Linked DNA regions of Homo sapiens. The protein of the gene in region 1 interacts with the protein of each later gene in a pairwise test. Each region holds a gene or a part of one and is shown in the gene's direction. Other genes may lie near its edges.

Evidence for each region.
Region 2: the proteins of DSC1 (region 1) and PKP2 interact in a two-hybrid assay, tested with the Homo sapiens proteins (one study listed by BioGRID).

Annotation. Positions count from the first base shown.
Region 1 is NC_000018.10:31,159,857-31,167,631, reverse strand, and holds the start of DSC1 (desmocollin-1 isoform Dsc1a preproprotein), read left to right. Parts: upstream 1-4,775; 5' UTR 4,776-5,037; coding exon 5,038-5,100; intron 5,101-7,775. UniProt on the Homo sapiens protein: A component of desmosome cell-cell junctions which are required for positive regulation of cellular adhesion.
Region 2 is NC_000012.12:32,795,770-32,802,795, reverse strand, and holds part of PKP2 (plakophilin-2), read left to right. Parts: intron 1-239; coding exon 240-393; intron 394-6,497; coding exon 6,498-6,687; intron 6,688-7,026. UniProt on the Homo sapiens protein: A component of desmosome cell-cell junctions which are required for positive regulation of cellular adhesion.

The DNA of each region.
Region 1 (7,775 bases):
TATAGAGTTGTCATGACATAGGACAGATTTTATAACTAGGAGAAAGCATGCTACAAAATTACATTCATAGTGCAAGTATAATAATGTTAAAAATTCTATACACAGAAACCGGACTGGAAACATGTATATTAAAAAGATTATCTTTAGTGAGTATATATTACCATGCTTAAAATCAACATTTAATAATGTGATTCTTAATGTATAAGTAATTGATAGTAAGATTCCATCCACATTAAAAAATACTTTTCAAACGTGTAACTTTGAAGACCACCAAAGGAAATAATAATTGGAGAAAATAGCAATAAATAAAAAAAAATCTAAAGTATTTGTTATATTCATTTCACCAGGATTTTAATCCTGAACATCATAGAAACTACTTTAACTAATTTTCAAACCGTACAGTAAAGTGTAAGCTCCATGAAGGGAGATATCATGTCTTCTTCAATTCTGTATAATCAGCACCACTGGTAATACTCAGCATACAGGAGGTGCTAATACATAAGTGATGAATAACTAACTAGTATTATTGAAATAACAATTTGAAACAGTAAGTTTAGTGGACATCTGTTGATTTGCTTGTCTAGTTACTTTTTATCCTTTTTTTCTGTCTAGCCTAGTGTTATCTTTGGGCAGTCACTTCTTCACCACTTTTTGCCCATGTGGTCAGGTCCACCACTTGACTTTAGGTTTATGTAAAAGATTCAGGCCAGAAGGATTGTGTTTTGCTCAAACTATTGGGAACAAGACATATTCTTTCAACAATGACTTGCTAAACCATTCATTGTTGAAATCCTGGAGGTTCTGGTGGTGATCTTTGCCTCCACACTGGGCAAAACTGAAATAATGAAACCAACACAAAAAAAGGCGGAGCTAAGAGATGGAGAGAATTTATGCTTAAATCTGAGTTAGGCTACCCCCAGCCTTCCAGTTACATGACCTAGCAAATCCTTTTGTCCTCAATAATTTTGTTTTGTTTTCTCTTAAGCCAGTTTGAGTTAGGTATGTGGGCTGAATAGAAAGAGTTCTGAACTACCCAGAGATGTGTGCTAATGTTTCTTTTCATAGGTTTGACAACAGTTTTGATAATAATGGGGAGTGATTATTTTATATAAAATTAATCACTATTCTACGCAAACAGCCTTAGGAAATCATTGTTAGTAATTATTAGTGCACATGAGTTACTTCTAAGTTTTAATAGCCCTTTACCCAGGCAAAAGACTGTGAGTCTAGTGAGATTGAAGGAGTTTCCACTGCAGTACACTGAACTCATGGGAGCCAAGCTTTTTTTTTTTTTTTTTTTAATAGCTAACAGTTCTTTTTCTTTGTTCATACACTTCACCCATACTAAACTCACAAACCCTTTTTTTACACCTGTAGTTTTTGGTATATTTAGTCATTCATATTTAACCCAAAGTGCCTTGTAATGGCTTCATCAATGTGTACAGCATTCCTACCAGTCTAGGAGTCTTTTAGAATAAATTAGGTCATCTTACAGAGATAATGGTTCTCTCTGTAAATGGCTTTTTTGAGGCCCTGAATTTATTCATAATGAGCCCTTTCTGTAAGTTGGTCATAAAAAAAATCTCTAATGAAATTTGTCACTGTATTTCCATAAAATATATTATTTAAATTTATAAAAAGGTGTTTTTCCTTGATGTGCCTTAAGGTTAAAAAAAAAAAAACTAAAGAAATACAAGAGTCATGTGGATCTTTACATTTAAATCTTTCTCTGTATGACCATAAATGTGTGGTAGAAAACAGATTATGCAATACTTATGTATTTAAAATAAAATATTTTCTTCTATAGGGGTTTCTCAACATTTAATCATTGTTCTTAATTTCTCTTTAAATGGCTAATATATTTAATATTTGCTGCAGTGCCTCTTTTTATCTTATCTTTTGAACTGGAAAGATAACTGCATGTTCTTCACCATAAAGTGTGCCTTTATTTTAACGTCATAAGATTTCTGTCTTCTTTTTTTCACCCTATATGATGCTTTTCTCCTAGCAAAGGCCAGAGCCCAGTATGTAACCCCTTAACTACTTGTTCAATGAATAAACCTATTCATGTATCTTTAGGTAGCCTCTACATAACAGACCTTGGATTTGCAATAACTTTGTGTTTGTTTCATTTGAAGTTCAGTCTCTTCAACTTTTTATTGCATGCCTAGGCAATTATATGGTGTAAAATATTAGTGCTTGCTCTGAGCCAGACACTGTTGGAAGTATTTTCTTTATAATATCACATTTAATCTTCATAACAACCTATGAATTAGCCACTATTATTGTCCCCATGTTATAAAGAGACCGAGGCACAGAAGAGTTAACTAACTTGCCTAGGGGTTATACTGCGAATAAGTAGTAAAGAGAGGATTTGCACCCAGGCAGTCTAGCTTCTAAGTCCAAGTTGTTAACCACTAACAATCTTTTGCTTAAGCTTATTAATTTAGACATAGGTTAAAACAAACAAACATACAGATAGAAATAAAAATAAAATAGAGCTTGCAGTGGTTTGAATGTCCCTGCCAAAAGTCATGTTGAAATTTTGTTGCCGTTGTAATGGTGTTAGGAGGTGGGACCTTTAAAAGTTGATTATGCCATGAAGTCCCCACCCTCGGGAGTGGGTTAGTTATCATCAGAGTGGACTTCTGATAACTGGATAAGTTAGGCCACTTCCCTGTCTGTCTTGTGCACTGGCTTCTGTCTTCTGCCTTCCATCATGGGATGACCCTCATCAGATGCCCATGCCATGCTCTTGGACTTTCCAGGCTCCTGAACCATGAACCAAACAAATTTCTGTTTTTGTTTTGTTTTGTTTTTTAATAAATTACCCAGGCTATGGTATTTCTTTACAGCAGCAGAAAACAGACTAAGACAGAGCTCTTACTGAATGATCTAATGCCAGAAAATTGGAAGAAATATGTCTTGTTTTCATTTAATTTTAAGGTAGATTCACGTTTAAGGAAGAGTCAATAATTTGTAATAATAAATTATTTTTTCCTATAAAGTGCCTATATTTTATTTTTAGGAAACCTTTGTGTGCAAATACAAAATATGGGAGAAATAGTAATGTAACAGATTTGCAAACCAATAATTTGGGGTTAGCTTTTACACAAGTTTTTCTATTACCTTTGAGAAAGATAGATAATGGGAAAAGAGAGCACGCAGAAAGTAGGCCAAAAGAAGTAGGATCAGAACATCAACTTCCCAGAACTGTGGAGAGTATTCTGGATTCATTTGAATTGAGCAGTGCCTGGAATCTCTTCATCCAACCAATATATGCCATTTTTTCAGTAACACCAATTTAATTTTGCTCTTCTATATCTTCCTAGTTCAGTGGAGAATATCATGTTATAGAAAAAGGTAATGATAACTTCATTAGCTGAAAAAAATGTGTTTCTATTTTCTAGGGTTGGAGAATTTGTCTTTGAATTATTTAAGCTGTATGACTATCTATTTATCTGTCTATCTATCTATCTAAATATATACTTAGATGATGCTTAAACATGCACAGAATTACACTTGGCTGTACACATATACATCTAAGTAATTTTTCTATTTCTATATTCCCATTCTTTTCTCCCAAAACGCCAGATATAAAAATATTCCATTAAAATGACTGTATTTTCTGATTGAGAAATCAAATTCCAATGCAGTCACAAAATATGTTTATTAGTGGGTATACCACTAGCAATAAAATACTACAAGATATCTTTTAGTTTTTTTTCTCCTGGGTCATTCATTTTCCAAATCTTCCTAGCTTCTAATTCTAATGAAGCAGTTACATTTATTTCTGTCTCTACATACAAGGAGAAATTGTTCCCATTGTCAAATAAGCTGAAGAAAACCTTTCTTTCCTCCCTTCTCAGCAGCATGGGTGTTGGGCTCTACCTTAACATTTGAAAATATTTATCCTTCTGTCCTAACTTCCATCACTGCCATTGAGTGCAATTGGTATCACTGAGCTCACTAATTTGGGACAGGAATAATGATGCTAAAGCTCTTGTTAGAGGAATCATTAGGGTTTAAAAAAATCTACACTTGATGGCCTGATTGTACTATTAAGCTAGGATATCCTATGTGTAATGTACAAGTAATTAGGGTGAATAGAGTGATTTTAGAGAGACTTGCTCTCAAAGATTGTAGTTGTCCTTGAAAAAATATAAAGGTAAAAAGCAGTGGCATCTTGTACAACAAAAGGAAAGCCACAAGAAAGATTATATGCTAGCTATTTCTTTATTCTCTTTCTTTTATGAAGTCTTTACATTCTGATAAGTTTCCTGTGACATCTAGAGAACCAACCACAGTGAATAGTCAATAACAGGAAGTAGATACCATGCCTTTATGAAGTTGCTGCTTTAAACTGGAATGCCAGTTCTCTAGCAGAACTACAGTGTTCTACAGGACCGATGACACTTAAATGCTTAGATGGGAGATAACTTCTGATGAGTGTGATTACACACGCTTAGGTCCTCTGATTTGCCAATGGCAGTTGAGGAGGCATCACTTCCTTGCATGGCGTTTGTGCACAATTTATGTTTGTACCCGAGGGCAAGACAGGTTAATAAGGCCAAGAAGGAGGGGAGGCTGTGGGAGTGGGTAATAACTGGGGAGGACTTCACAGCATCAACCTGGGGGAAAGGGAGGAGGGCTGAGGATGAAGGGTGTTCCCTCCTCCTTCTGCCTATGTGTTAAGTGGCAAGAGAAATTTTGAAAGCTGCTGTGAGGAGGAGCTACTGACTGGGTTTTGGGGTGTTTTGTACCCCACCCTCCTCACTTGTAGGAAAGCCTCTTTGCATTTAGACGTAATTGAACTGGAAGGAAGGAGACTGGCCAGGGAATAGGGGGAAAGAAATTCTCCCGTTGCTCCTCCTACTGTTTATCACTTGCCTCCGGACTGTCTTCCAAACCAAGCTCAGCTGCATCAAGGTGGCAGCAGAATACCCTGTGCAAGTGCCAGCGTCTTCTTAGCCGCTCTGTGCATCCCAGGCTGCCCTGTTATCTGGCCACCGTCCCTGGCCATTGGGACTGCTTCTGATGGCTCTGGCCTCTGCTGCCCCAGGGAGCATCTTCTGTAAGCAGCTCCTTTTCTCTCTCCTGGTGAGTAACAACCAAAGGATTAGGGAATTCAAGCATGTTACTACCTGCTTCCTCTCTGCAGTTTGGGCTTGAAAGAGACTAGGAGTGAGGATGGGAGGCAGAGAAGAGAGATTGGGGAAAACAAAAGCAGATCTGAGGAAGATTCAGGGAAGAGTTGAGAGGCTTGGGATTCAGGATGGAAAGTGTTCAGCTTACTTCTCAAGCACCCACTGCCAGAGTGTTAAAAGTTTTCAAGGGAATCCCTCTTCCATCCTGCTGTGGTGATTTTCTAAGAGTAGAGAAGTGAATTCATTCTTTAGGCATTTGGCCCAGAAGTTTCTGAGGTTTACTTCTGCTACCAGTGATTACATAAACTCATGTTATTTAACATGCTGAGTTCTACTAAGCTGCAAAAAAAGAGAAAGGATTCTGGGTGAACATGCAAATTATCCAGGACTTTTTGAATTTTACCCACGAAGCAGTTTAAGCAAAGAATAGTTTAAGAAAAATAACAAAAATGTGACTGTCATTGAAAATATCCTCAACTTGGCTTCCACTTGGGTTTTTAATAGCTTTGTAACTGTGTAAGGTGCTATTTTTTCTTTGGAGGTGAGGGAAGAGAGGGGGGTTATTTCACACATCCGTCCATCATTTCTGAGGTGTGAGTTTCCTATTTTTTCATTTTAGCAAAATACTTGAGTTTCAAAATATATTTTTAGAAATGGCAGGTATGAGGACAAACATTTTCTCCATGTAAATAATATACAATGCAGGGTTGATGGTCACCTTCTCATCCTGTAACTGCTTAGGGAGACGATAACTCAGATACCATCTTAAGTTAGTACAAGTTTGGTAAAATGTGGTAAAAATGTTTCAAAGGATTCTACCCACATTTCTTTTGCTTCTGATCCCTGTACTGTCTAATATCTCTTGGACAATTCATCTCCTGTTTATTTATTTCTGACTCTGAAACTGACTAAAAGGGTGTCACTAAGCCACTTAGTCAGTGATTTAACCTGAAGACGGGAATAGTATTTAATGAATGGAAACCTTCAGTGGCTCTGCCTGCAGAGGGAGGACCATCAACATGGAATCCTAGGACAAGAAGGAAAGAAGATGGGGGTGGGAGTGGAAGTGTGGATATAACTATAAGAATGTCTCATATATTTATATATATATATGTACATTTATATATATATACACACACGCACATATACAGTCATGCTCTGCAAAACAATGCCTCAGTCAATGATGGACTACATATATGAGTGGTCCCATAGATTATAATGGAGCTCGTCTGTATAGGTGAACCATTTTTTATCTTTTATATTGTATTTTAATGTACTTTTTCTATATCTAAAAATGTTTAGTTACACAAATACTTACAATTGCCTACAGTATTCAGTAGAGGAACATGCTGTACAGGTTTGTAGCTTACAATAAGCTATACTATATACTATACACCTAGGCTGTACCATGGTGCATACCATGGGGCATACATATATAAATCATGGTGTATACCATGTAGGTATAACCCAGGTGTGTAGTAGACTATATCCTCTAAGTGTATGTAAGTATACTCTATGATGTCTGCACAAGGATGAAATCACCTAACGTTGCATTTCTTAGAATGTAAGCAATATATGACTGTGTGTATATATATACACACATACACATACATATATAGGTATAGGTATATGTACAGGTATATGCATATGTATGTGTACATATGTATATGTATGTGTTTATGCATAGCCTAATTACAATATGCTGTTTCCACATTGTATACTTAGACAACTATTAACAGTATGGTCTATGCTTAGAAAGTTCTTTAAGTATAATTTATTATGTTCCTTGGCATTAGGGATGAACATATTTAAAAAGTTAAATAAATACGAATGTCTCACGTTTTAAAAAGTGGTTTTTAAATTAGGACTAAATAAAAATGTGGCCTTTTAATTCCAGATTTCTGCCTAACATAGATTTTTGTAAAATTACAAACTATTTAATTAGACTGCTACAGTATATCTGGTAGACTTGAGATGAGCTGGAAAAGAAGTGCACATCCTTAATATGGATGTTAATCCATTCTCTTTCCTCCTCGCAAGTAATGGGTCCCGTAACTCTAGAATTCAGAGAAAAGCTGAAAGCTGATCATAAAATTGACCTACATGTTTCTGGAAAACCTAGCTCTACTCTATCTTATATTTAAATAATAAAAAAGCAGTTATTTTGATAAAGAGGAACAAACAGAAAATGCCAAGAAAAAGAAGTAAAATATATTTTGAACCTATAGACATTTTTGAAATGATAGCTTTTCTTTTGTTTTTTTCAGATAGTGTCTATGTCTTTGAACTACCTAGGTTTTAAAAACAATAGCTGGGCCTTGAATTTAATTAAAAATCTTCACCCATCTGAAGGATACTCTCCATATTTTGACATATATTTCTTTTTAGATTAGTCATGTGATTTGAGATCATTTAGATTTTGGCGTTTTGGCCAAGTCAGTCACAAAATTGATTTGAGAACAATGATTTTTTGGGGGCATTATTTTTCTGTGAGGTTAAAAAAGCCCTTAACTATTTTCTAGACTTCATCAACTATAACTTCAAATAGTAAAATGATGATTAGAGAATTAGGGCATATATGTAATTATGCATTTCAAAGGTAAGTATTTTCTTCATGCTAAAAATCAG
Region 2 (7,026 bases), on another chromosome or scaffold:
TCCCAGCTAGTCTGGAGGCTGAGGCAGGAGAATCACTTGAACCTGGGAGGTGGAGGTTGTGGTGAGCTGAGATCACACCACTGCACTCCAGCCTGAATGACAGAGAGAGACTTTGTCTCAAAATAAATAAATAAGATAAAAATAAAACATCTTCATCAACCTCTGGTAATCTACAGAAAACTTAATGTTATCGTGAAATCAAATACAATAGCACTTATAGGATATGTCTCACAAAACAGATGCCGACATCAGTGGCTCAGACAGTTGTCCAGAAGGAAAGTGGCCTGCAGCACACCCGAAAGATGCTGCATGTTGGTGACCCAAGTGTGAAAAAGACAGCCATCTCGCTGCTGAGGAATCTGTCCCGGAATCTTTCTCTGCAGAATGAAATTGGTGAGTCGGTATAAGTATCTATGTGTAATATGTACATGCTGAAGATACAATGCAATGAAATGTTGTCTGTATCACCTCCCGTTCACAAAGATGCACTGGAAATGGGAGTAAGGAGTAGGTGATAAACCGGCCTGCCTTTTGTGCCACCAGATATCACAAACAGGCTTTCTCAGTGGATCTCACCAGAGATTTTTTTTAAATATCCAACATTTAAAAAAAAAATTACTACAAAAGAGAAATTTTAGAGCATACTAATAATTAACAAGATAAGTAATATTGTTGATATTTTTCACTGGGTGGCACCCTCAGTCACACCATCCAATGAAGTCTTTCTAATCCATATAGTTGTCTTTCAGAATGTTCTCTCTGTGGCTCTCTTAAGCACCACAATTCTAGAACATTTGAAAAACACATATAGTGGTGGTTTACTTTAGTAGTTTGGCAGTGTGTTGGACTATTAAAAAAATGGATAAACAGATAATCACAATAAAAAGACAAGGAGTCACTGAATATAGCAAATTTGGCATGGATTTTTTTTGAGTAACTGTGATGAGACATATTTTGCCTTTGACTGTATTATTGACAGAGATGATAACGGTACTTTTTTATTTGTTTGCTTATACCAAGAAGTATGTGATAAATGTTTGTTGTATCTAGTAGAAAATTACAAAATGAGATGATAGAAAGATAATGCTAAAATTAAACATGCTTCATAATGCTCTGTAATCGGTCGTTTCTAACAACTCAAATTCGGTTTTTCACATTTCACAAAAATTATAAACAATATTTTGCCTGTTTTAATGGATTAGATTTTTAAATATGCACATATATAGCCCCAGAGATATTAAAGGCTGCAGTTATGTTTTAGTAATGTCATTTTCAAAGCCAGCCAGCAGCACATTTGACAGGAGGTTTTATGCAATGGCTTCATGCTCATTCTAAGTAGAGATAAGCCTGGAACATTCTCAGTGAATCTGAAAGAGACCTCGCCATAGGCACTCTCAGAATTATTAAAATGCTCTCCCCATGGTCTTTTGTGCTGAACTTCAATGGCAGTGTATTATCCTTTCCCTTTTTTGTTCTTTTCCCAAATGAAAAATTGACTCCATCTTTAAAACACCACCAAGGTAAATAACAGCACTATACACATTAAGCATGTACCTTCAGGGCAGAAATGCTGTTGGCCTCAGGTTCTGCAGTCCCCTAAATGTCGGGAAGGTATAGCTGTAGCCACATGGTTTATATTAGAGGATTCTGTTGATAAACTTCACTTTAAGGATAACAGAGAAAAGAGGCTTCAGCAAGATAAATGCTATTTTAAAATTCCAGATTGGCTTCATGTCAAATATATAAGTAAAAGGACTTCTCTTAATTCAGAATTTTAATAGCAAGAAATAAGTGAAAGTCAGCTTGAACACATGCTTTGTGTTTCTCATGAGAGCTTTCTAAGCCAGGTAACTTTCCCTGTTCTCACCTGCAATAAAGTTGTTATGTTTTACTTACATCTAGAGAAATAAACTTGAAACTTACATTTTCTCAAAAACTTAAAGACAGGCAATGGAGCATGGTAACAGAATAACAGATTTCACACAGAAAACATGGGTTTGTATCTCACAGTGCTATTTTGCCAGTCAAGGCCTTTCATTCTGTAGTTTAACTTACTAAAAGGAGGGAGACTTCTGATAATAGCATCCACTGAGAGCTTACCACATGCGCAGTACTGCAATACAATTAACATGCATTGACTCGTTCCCTCAGAACAACCCTGTGACGTAGACATTATTATCCCACATTGCAACTTAGGGAAAAACAAATAGAGACATTAAGTAGCTTGCTCAGGCCATAGAGCTGTAAAGTAGCAGAACCAGGACTGAAACTACAGCACTCTGGCTTTAGATGAACGCTGAGCTCTCCACAGTATGCTGTGTGCTTGAACCACAGTCAAAAGGAAAGTGTTCAGGCCTGTGAGCAAAAGGTATGTCTTACCTGTCAATCAGGTCCAGGTATTATGATGACATATCATTCAGTGCCTTTTATTGAGTACTTGTCCATTTCAGGAATAATGATCAACGCTGTAAACACAGAAATAAGTAAGATAATTGGCTTCAAGGAACCCACAGCCTCATCTGAAGTTGAGACAGTCACACAATTCATTACTATCAGTATCATAGAGAGAGAAATGTGCTTCAAGATGCCACATGAACACAGATGAAGGCACACAATAAAATTAGGCAGTATTTGTTAATTGCTGATAAACACAACACGTATTCAGAAGCTGTGGGGATCAGCAAAAGCAAAAGATGCATGCTCTCTATCTTTTAAGAAGAGTCTAAAGTGGTTAGAGGAAAAAGAGGAAAACATACATGAAAATAACTATTACAAAAAGTTTAAGCACAAGTTCACATTGACCAAAATATGTACCATAGGACAAGTTCCAGTGGATTTATCAAATATTAACACCTTTTAAGAATTTTCAATAGATTTTTGGGTACAGGTGGTGTTCAGTTACATGCAAAAGTTATTTAGTGATTATTTCTGAAATGTTGGTGCACATGTCACCTGAGCAGTGTACACTGTACCCAATGTGTAGTCTTTTATCCCTCACCCCTTCCTACCTTTCCCCCAAGTCCCCAAAATCCATTATATAACTCTTGTTCCTTTGCATCCTCATAGCTTAGCTCTCACTTATAAGTGAGAACATCCAATATTTGGTTTTCCATTCCTGAGTTATTTCACTTAGAATAGTGGTCTCTAATTCCATCCAATTTGCCGCAAAGGCCATTATGTCTTTCTTTTTAATGGCTGAGTAGTATTCCATGGTGTGTATATACCACATTTCCTGTATCCACTCGTTGGTTGATGGGCATTTAGGTTGGCTCCATATTTTGCAATTGTGAATTGTGCTGCTATAAACATGCATGTACAAGTGTCTTTTTCATATAATGACTTCTTTTCCTTTGGGTAGATACCCAGTAGTGGTATTGCTGGATCAAATGGTAGTTCTACTTTTAGTTCTTTAAGGAATCTCTATACTGTTTTCCATAGTGGTTGTACTAGTTTACATTCCCACCAGCAGTGTAGAAGTGTTCCCTTTTCACCATATCCATGCCAACATCTATTAAATTTTGATTTTTAAATTATGGTCATTCTTGCAGGAGTAAGGTGGTATCTCATTGTGCTTTTAATTTGCATTTCCATGATAATTAGTGATGTTGAGCATTTTTTCATATGTATGAGGCGTATCAAAAAATTTTTCTTATGCCATTTGTATATCTTCTTTTGAGAATTGTCTATTCATGTCCTTAGCCCACTTTTTGATGGAATTATTTGGCTTTTTTCTTGCTTTTTTGAGATCCTTGTAGATTCTGGATATTAGTCCTTTGTCGAATGCAGTTTGTGAATATTTTCTCCCACTCTGTGGGGTGTCTGTTTACTCTGCTGATTATTTATTTTGCTGTGCAGAAGCTTTTTAGTTTAATTGGATCCCATTTACTTATTTTTGGTTTTGTTGCATTTGCTTTTGGGTTCTTGGTCATGAACTCTTTGCCTAAGCCAATGTCTAGAAGAGTTTTTCCAGTGTTATCTTCTAGAATTTTTATGGTTTCAGGTCTCAGATTTAATCTTTGATCCATCTTGAGTTGATTTTTGTATAAAGTGAGAGATGAGGATCCAGCTTTATTCTTTTACATGTGGCTTGCCAATTATCCCAGCATCATTTGTTGAATATGTTGAATAGGGTGGCCTTTCCCCACTTAATGTTTTTGTTTGCTTTGTCAAAGATCAGTTGGCTGTAAGTATTTTGCTTTATTTCTGGGTTTTCTATTCTATTCCATTGGTCTATGTATCTTTTTTATTTTCTATAGCCTAATTGTGAAAGTGGCATGTCTATTTTTTTAATACCTTTCTTGTTAGTACAAAAAAAAAAAGCCAAACTCAAAACTTATAACCAAGAAGTTATATACATAGTAGAAAAGTACATTTAAAATAGTTTATTTCTCTTTTTAAAATAGTAGGCCAGGCGCAGTGGCTCACGCCTGTAATCCCAGCAGTTTGGGAGGCTGAGGCGGGCAGATCACCTGAGGTCAGGAGTTCGAGACCAGCCTCAACATGGAGAAACCCCATCTCTACTGAAAAAAAAAATATACAAAAAATTAGCCGGGCATGGTGGTGCGTACCTGTAATCCTAGCTACTCGGGAGGCTGAGGCAGGAGAATTGCTTGAACCTGGGAGGCGGAGGTTGCAGTGAGATGAGATCGTGCCATTGCACTCCAGCCTGGGCAACAAGAGCGAAACTCCATCTCCAAAAAAAAAAAAAAAACAAGAGTAGTATTACTTATGTATTGGAAAAACCTTGGGAAGCAAAGATTATTCGTTTATTATTTATTTACTATTTAATTTTACTTTTTAAAATAGAGACGGGGTCTCATTATATTTTCCAGACTGGTCTCAAACTCCTGGGCTCAAGTGATCCTCCTGTCTCGGCCTTCTAAAGTGCTGGGATTACAGACATGAGCTACCTTGCCTGGCCTTAAAAATGATTTTAGCTTGGCCAGGCGCGGTAGCTCACGCTTCTAATCCCAGCACTTTGGGAGGCCCAGGCGGGCGGATCACAAGATCAGGAGATCAAGATCATCCTGGCTAACAAGGTGAAACCCCGTCTCTACTAAAAATACAAAAAAATTAGCCCGGCGTGGTGGCGGGCACCTGTAATCCCAGCTACTCGGGAGGCTGAGGCAGGAGAATGGCATGAACCCGGGAGGCGGAGCTTGCAGAGAGCCGAGATCGCGCCACTGCACTCCAGCCTGGGTGACAGAGCAAGACTCTGTTTCAAAAAAAAAAAAAGATTTTAGTTCACTATTAATATTGTTGTAGAAAAACAGCTCCTATTAACATTTTTCCTCAGGTTTCTTACGTGGGTTTTTTGGTAATAGTATGTATTCTTTTTTTTTTTTTTTTTGAGACAGGGTCTCTCTCTGTTGCCCAGGCTGGAGAATAGTGGCGTGATCTCTGCCCACTGCCACTTCTGCCTCCCAAGCTCAAGCAATTCTTGTGCCTCAGCCTCCTGAGTAGCAGGGACTACAGGCACAGGCATGTGCCACTACGCCCAGCTAATTTTTGTATTTTTAATAGAGACAGGGTTTCACCATGTTGGCCAGGCTGGTCCTGAACTCCTGACCTTAAGTGATCCACCCACCTCAGCCTCCCAAAGTGCTGGGATTACAGGTGTGAGCCACCGAACCTGGCCAATAATATTATGTATTATTTATATAAATATACTGATTTTTCACATACACTATTAACATAATTATTTTCTTTTTATTATACATGCTTCATAGATAGGTTTTGTGATGAATAATAGTCTTTGCAGGTGTGTTTTAGTTAATCATAGTCCTATTATAAGGATATTCAGGCTTTTTAGTTTTTCAGTTACATGTAGTACTGTCATAAAGATCTCTGTAGAAAGCTTTTTTCATTTTCAAAGTGATATTTTTAAGATGTATTCCTAGACATGGAATTACCGAATTGAAGAAGATGAAAATGTTTTAAGTTCTTGACATTTCTGCCAAATTACACTCTGAAAAGATTTTCAATATACTGAGCACAGAGTATCCTCTTTTCAAATATTTTTAAAAATTTGTTATTAGGGAAATTACATCTTTCCATGTGTTGTTAACCAGCTGTGTTTCTTTTTAAGAAAGTTCTTGGCCGGGCGCAGTGTCTCACGCCTGTAATCCCAGCACTTTGGGAGGCCGAGGCTGGCGGATCACGAGGTCAGGAGATCGAGACCATCCTGGCTAACACGGTGAAACTCCGTCTCTACTGAAAATAAAAAAAAATAAAAAAATAAAAAAATTAGCCAGGCGTGGTGGCGGGTGCCTGTAGTCCCAACTACTCGGGAGGCTGAGGCAAGAGAATGGCGTGAACCCGGGAGGCAGAGCTTGCAGTGAGCCAAGATGGTGCCACTGCACTCCAGCCTGGGCAACAGAGCAAGATTCCGTCTCAAAAAAAGAAAAAGAATGTTCTTCACCCAAAATATATTGGGATCTTGGGATTAAGAAACAATCTTTTTAATCAAGTGTTTTGTTTTTTTTTTCATTTTGTAGCCAAAGAAACTCTCCCTGATTTGGTTTCCATCATTCCTGACACAGTCCCGAGTACTGACCTTCTCATTGAAACTACAGCCTCTGCCTGTTACACATTGAACAACATAATCCAAAACAGTTACCAGAATGCACGCGACCTTCTAAACACCGGGGGCATCCAGAAAATTATGGCCATTAGTGCAGGCGATGCGTAAGTCCTTCAGTTCTGCCCGTCAGCTGCCTCCCTTTCCCCTCACCAGCCTGTGTGTAAATAATCCGGTTGTGAATGTGCGGTCATGACCATCATGTGCAACATGGCAGCAAACAGGATGTAAAGCCAGGCCAGATCATCTGGTCAGCCCTCAGTGATCAGCCAAGGAAAGAACTGAATCCACCACACCACATGCTTGTCCCTTCTCTTCTAAAGTATCAACAGAGGGTCAGACTCCAGAACTTCTCTTGGTTGTGCATTCCAGCATTGTATTGGCCTAATGAATTAGTTTCCCAAAGCCACAGCTGTGATTTAATAACAGCAGAATGTAGGCAAAGC